Regions from separate parts of the Homo sapiens genome. Here region 1 is linked to region 2. The links come from fine-mapping of genetic effects on gene expression. A gene starts in region 2. The other region holds a variant in brackets. All regions are shown on one strand. Distances are between the middles of the regions.

Evidence for each region. PIP is the estimated chance that this variant, and not a neighbour inherited with it, causes the effect.
Region 1: its variant is fine-mapped to the expression of NCBP2-AS1 in testis (GTEx, PIP 0.93).

The regions. Positions count from the first base shown.
Region 1 is chr3:196,174,916-196,177,827 of GRCh38, forward strand. No RefSeq gene overlaps it. Among named protein-coding and RNA genes, the nearest start is that of LINC00885, 34 kb to the left of the region's middle. The variant C/T (reference allele first, on the strand shown) is at 1,669.
Region 2 is chr3:196,938,158-196,941,069 of GRCh38, forward strand. NCBP2-AS1 (NCBP2 antisense RNA 1) reads left to right here and starts at 1,720. Exons shown (of 3, transcript NR_046630.1): 1 at 1,720-1,970; 2 at 2,817-2,912. NCBP2 (nuclear cap binding protein subunit 2) reads right to left here. Exons shown (of 4, transcript NM_007362.5): 2 at 1,094-1,275.

The DNA.
Region 1 (2,912 bases), 760 kb before region 2:
AGCTGTCTCATGCCCACATCCTGGCACTCACAGGAGCCAGTAAAACTCTCTCCAGGGCAGTGGCTGCGACCCTGTCTCCTAAACTCAGAAAACCAGGTCCTAACTTTGGGGACTTGCGGGGAAGGGTGGGAGGGGGTCGGGGGATAAAAGACTACAAATAGAGTGCAGCGTATAGTGCTTGGGTGATGGTTGCACCCAAATCTCACAAATCACCACGAAAGAACTTACTCATGTGACCAAATAGCACCCGTACCCCAATAACCTATGGGAACATTCAAAAGAAAAAGAAAACCGTGTCCTAGTCTCCTCAGCCAGTGGGGCGGTGTGTGGTGGGTGGTCTGCACTTGGTCCCAGAGAGGTCAATGAGACCCAGACTTGCCTGTGAAAGAAACGGAGTGGTGGCGGGGCCCGGGAAAAACCCCTGCGTTCACTCGTTCACTCGGCGCCTGCTGTGTGGCAGGCAGCCCCCCTGCTGGGCTCGCTCAGTCCTCGGTACCATCCTGGGAGCAGGCATTAGCCCCCTTTTGCAGATGAGCCTCCGAAAAGGTGAAGAACTTGACCAAGGGTCAAACTGAGCAAATGGCAGAGTCAGGCCCCTACCCCGGCTGACCACCCAATGCCCAGTGGCTGCAGCGTTCCCGTTACACAGCACGATAGCTCTGCAACACACATAAGCATGCATTAAACCAGAGATGCGCCATCACTCCCACTTCTGGAAGCTGATCTCATAGCACAGCAAGAGACGAGCAAGAAGGATGTTCTAACAAGTGTGTTGAGGGGTCACAGGGTGGGCCTTTCTCACTCCAAGGCTCTGGGACTCTTGGAGCTCTGGTAGGAGCAGGGGAGACCAACCCTACCTCGGATGCAGGGGCAGCATCCGATGACCCTGATAATGACCACAAGAAAGAGGCAGCACCTCTAGGGCAGGAAAGTGCTGGGGGTCAGAGGCATGGGTGCCATTCCAGGCTGAGCCAGGCTGGCTGTGTGAGCCTGCGTGAGTCACTTAACCTCTGAACCTAGTGCTTCACGTGCAAAAGAGGGAAGCTTCCCTCATCCTCCTCCAGCCGTCACCCGCTGCCTTCCTTCTCTCTGCAGCAAAATGGCTCCGAAGCGTTGTCTACACTTCTTTTCTCTGATTCTTTATTTAAATTTGCACTTATTAGGCTGAGCGCAGTGGCTCATGCCTGTAATCCCAGCACTTTGGGAGGCCGAAGCGAGCAGATCACTTGAGGTTAGGAGTTCAAGACCAGCCTGGCCAACATGGTGAAACCCTGTCTCTACTAAAACACAAAAATTCGCTGGGCATGGTGGCAGGCACCTGTAATCGCAGCTACTCAGGAGGCTGAGGCAGGAGAATCACTTGAACCCGGGAGGCAGAGGTTGCAGTGAGCCGAGATCGTGCCACTGCACTCCAGCCTGGGCCACAGAGCAAGACTCTGTCTCAAAAATAATAAATAAATAAATAAATAAATAAATCTTCACTTATAAATTACTCCCTAAATAAAAATAACACGTTATATACATATATATACCCATCTCAGCCTCCCAAAGTGCTGAGATTACAGGTGTGAGCCATCGTGCTTTGCCATAACGTGGTTTTTTTAATGTTTTATTTTAAAAATGTTTTTATAACTTTTATCTATTTATTTATTTTTTGAGATGAAGTCC[C/T]GCTCTGTTGCCCAGGCTGGAGTGCAGTGGCACCATCTCAGCTCACTGCAAGCTCTACCTCCTGGGTTCAAGCGATTCTCCGGCCTCAGCCTCCCAAGTAGCTGGGATTGCAGGCATGTGCCACCGCACCTGGTTAATTTTTCTATTTTTAGTAGAGACAAATTTTTGCCATGTTGGCCAGGCTGGTCTCAAATCCCTGACCTCAGGTGATCCGCCCGCCTCGGCCTCCCAAAGTGCTGGGTTTACAGGCGTGAGCCACCGCGCCTGGACAAAATTTTTTTATACCTTTTAAATTCCAGACCCACCACCAGGTTGAATCCTCCGGGCTGACTGTGCAGACCCCCCACTATGCCCCCTACTTTCCATTAACTGGTATGTTTTATGTTATCAAGAATATTAAAACAAACCTATGCATCTGCCATTGAGCTTAAGAAATAGATGGCCGGACGCGGTGGCTCACGCCTGTAATCCCAGCACTTTGGGAGGCCGAGGCGGGCGGATCATGAGGTCAGGAGATCGAGACCATCCTGGCTAACACGGTGAAACCACGTCTCTACTAAAAATACAAAAATTAGCCGGGCGTGGTGGCAGGCGCCTGTAGTCCCAGCTACCCGGGAGGCTGAGGCAGAAGAATGGCGTGAACCCGGGAGGCGGTGCTTGCAGTGAGCTGAGATCGCACCACTGCACTCCAGCCTGGGCGACAGAGTGAGACCCTGTCTTGGGGAAAAAAAAAAAAAGAACTAGACGAATGCCCAGGCATGGGAAGCCCCAGTCACCTTTCCCTCCCTCAACCCGAGAGGAGTCACATTCCAAACCTAGCCTTTATCATTCCCTTCCTTTTCATTAGACGGTTATGTATGTACGTATCCTTAAACTTTATGCTAATGGTATCACATTTTGTGTATTCTACTACTTTTAAACATTTATGGATTAAATTCTGTCCCTCCAAAAAAGATATGTTGGAGTCTTAACCCCTAATACTTTAAGCCGTGACCCCGTTTGCAGACACCGTCTTTACAGAGGTGCTCAAGGTGAGAGGCACTCATTAGAGTGGACCCTCATTCGATACGACTGGTGTCCTTATAACAAGCAGAACACAGGACAGAGGCAGAGCCACCAGCAGGGAGAACACCACATGAAGCCTGGAGTCAGGCTTCCGGACGAAGCCGGGAGAGAGGCGGGGAACAGGTCCTCCTCCCACGCCTTCCCAGGGAACGTGGCCCTGTCGGCACCCTGATCTCCTC
Region 2 (2,912 bases):
CAACAGTGTTCTGAATAAACCATCTGGAGAAACTAGTATCTTTGATGTTAGCAAGCCAAAATAAAATCTCTTTTCATTCTAGCATTTGGGAAACCTGTGTATCCCCGAGGCAAGCCTGCAATCTGGGAGAGAAGCCCTGCCTGGGTCCAGTGAGTCAGCATTCTTTTCCTTAATTATGAGCAGAAATCCAGGGATCACCAGACACTTAAGGAAAAATTTCAACCGAAACAAACATAATTCAGGGCACAGGAAAAAATTCAAAAGATATATTAAATTGGGCCTGCAAAATTTCTCAGAATATTAAATTGAATGACCAAAACATACAGTAAAAAGAACATAGGATAAATCCAAGAGGTCCAATACTTAAAAGAGTCTGAGTAAGGGAATTAAATGATCAAAGTAAATAGTTTTGGTTTGTACCTATACAGTCAGGTTATATACATCTATATAATGAAATACTATACAGCTATTTACTTAAAAGTTTTTTTCTTTAAAGATGGGGTCTTAACCCGTCACCCCCGCTGGAACACAGTCACAACTCAGTGCAGCCTTGAAATCTTGGGCTCAACTGATCCTCCTGCCTCAGCTTCCTGAGCAGCTGGCACTACAAACACCAGCCACCATGCCCAGCTGTACAGCTATTTTAAAAAAAGACCTACATATGCTGAAATGGAACAATAAAAAATAAAAAAATGATTTTAAAAACAGCACATGAAATACACTACCGCACACCCACAGGGTTACTTCTTGAAAGACGCCCAAGAAACTGGTAACTGACTGCCTCTGGCAAAGGGCATTAGGGGTTTAGAACAGTACGAGATTTTTATATTTTCACTACATTCTTTGGAATTTTTTTTTTTTTACGTGAAGGGCAAACATTCTTGAAAAACTTTTTGTTAAAGAACCATAAAGCATGGATTTCAGAAGAGAATATAAATAGTATCAGCTTTACAGTATAAGGGCAGAGACACACTGGGTGGAAAGTAGGAGGGAGATGAAGGAAAACGTAGGGACGAGTGCAGGGACGCTTATGAGCTACCACTCTCAGCTCTACCCTGGTTCAGCAGCTACATTAGATCCATGGGAAGGATACTCCACAAAACAGAATCCACATGCTGTTTTCTTCATTTTATCCAGACCCATAATGATTTTCTTTATGTCACCACTTTTGCTGAAGAGTTCATAGATTTGTTCTTCAGTTGTGTAAAAAGAAAGATTTCCAACATATAACGTACAGCTTTTCTTCAGTAATTTTTCTTGTTCTTCATTGTCACCCTAGAATTTCAAATAGAGACAAAAGTTAAGCAACTTCAGAGCCTTGCTTAAATAGTATTTCTAAGTACGGTAGAGACATTCATTAATTCTGGTTTGGAAATCAACTTCTCTCATCCCAGCCTACCAGAAATCCCTTGCCCAAAAAGGGGGATGTCGACCTTCTGTGAAGCACTTATGCGAAGTCCAGACTCTTAGTAGAGACAGGGCTCAAAAGTTATACCACATACAACAAAGTCACTTCTACGCCCGACTGCCACGCAAGCGGCTTCCCTTTTCCCTGCACACACCATATCCTCAGCAGTGCATCCTTTAAACCCAAGTGTAGACTCTGGACCTTGACCCAATATATGACAAAGGGCCCTTTTATCCTTCGTAGTGAAAAATAAGTGGGTTTTCAGAGAGAGAGAGAGTTCCTCTTTAATAACCCCCTAGAGACTGTTGAAAGCCACAACCTTGATGCTTTACGTGCTCATAGATCTTTCTCTGAGTTTAGGGGAAAATGTAGTGATCACTAAAAACAAAACAGAGCTCACTTTCTTAATGGGCTTCCAAATTGGGATGACAGGATGAAGCCAGAGACTTAAGCATATAACTGGGCTTCATCCAACACACCTGACAGACAAAGCCCTGGGTCCAAAATGGCTCATCGGGGTCAGGCGCGGTGGCTCATGCCTGTAATCCCAGCACTTTGGGAGGCTGAGGCGAGTGGATCGCCTGAGGTCAAGAGTTTGAGACCAGCCTGGCTAACATAGTGAATGAAACCCTGTCTCTACTAAAAATACAAAAATTAGCTGGGCATGGTAGCAGCGGGCGCCTGTAATCCCAGCTACTCGGGAGGCTGAAGCAGGAGAATCGCTTGAACCTGGGAGGTGGAGGTTGCAGGGAGCTGAGATTGCACCACTGCACTTGAGCCTGGACAACAAGAGTGAAACTCTATCTCAAAAAAAAAAAGTCCACAGGACAATAGTCATTGTATGTTAAAAAGAGGTTTTCGGAACTTTGGAGTGAGACATTAGAGAAAGTAAATTCCTTTCATTTTACTGCTGTTACTGATTTGTGAACATGGAAAGGAGGCATCTTCTTTTTCTACTTTTCTCACACATGTAAGTAAGATCCAAATAAATAGCCTACAGTTTAAGATAACTGTGGTGTAAGTGCTTAAAGTATATTAATATGGATTCCATTCACAGAATGCTAGAAATTCCACATGACAGTATGGCATTAGCATCTAAAAAAAGCTACAGGTTTAGACTGAGGAGATGAATAATAGACAAAGTCAGAAGGTTCCAGTTTTCATCTCACAGGATGCTTTAAGTTCAAAATGGTCAGGATGTGGAACTGTCTAAAGTAGTAACTAAAAGTGGTAGAAGTGCAAATCATGCCTGGCACTTAGGCATCCCAGCACTTTGGGAAGCCCCAGGCAGGTGGATCGCTTGAGTCCCAGAGTTCGAGACTGGCCTGAGCAACACAGGGAGACCCTGTCTCTACAAAAAATTAGCTGGATGTGGTGGCGCGAGCCTGTGGTCCCAGCTTCTCAGGAGGCTGAGGTGGGTAGGATCACTTAGGCTCAGGAGGTTGAGGCTGCGTGAGCCGTGATTGCGCCACTGCACTTCAGCCTAGGCAATAAAGCGAGACTC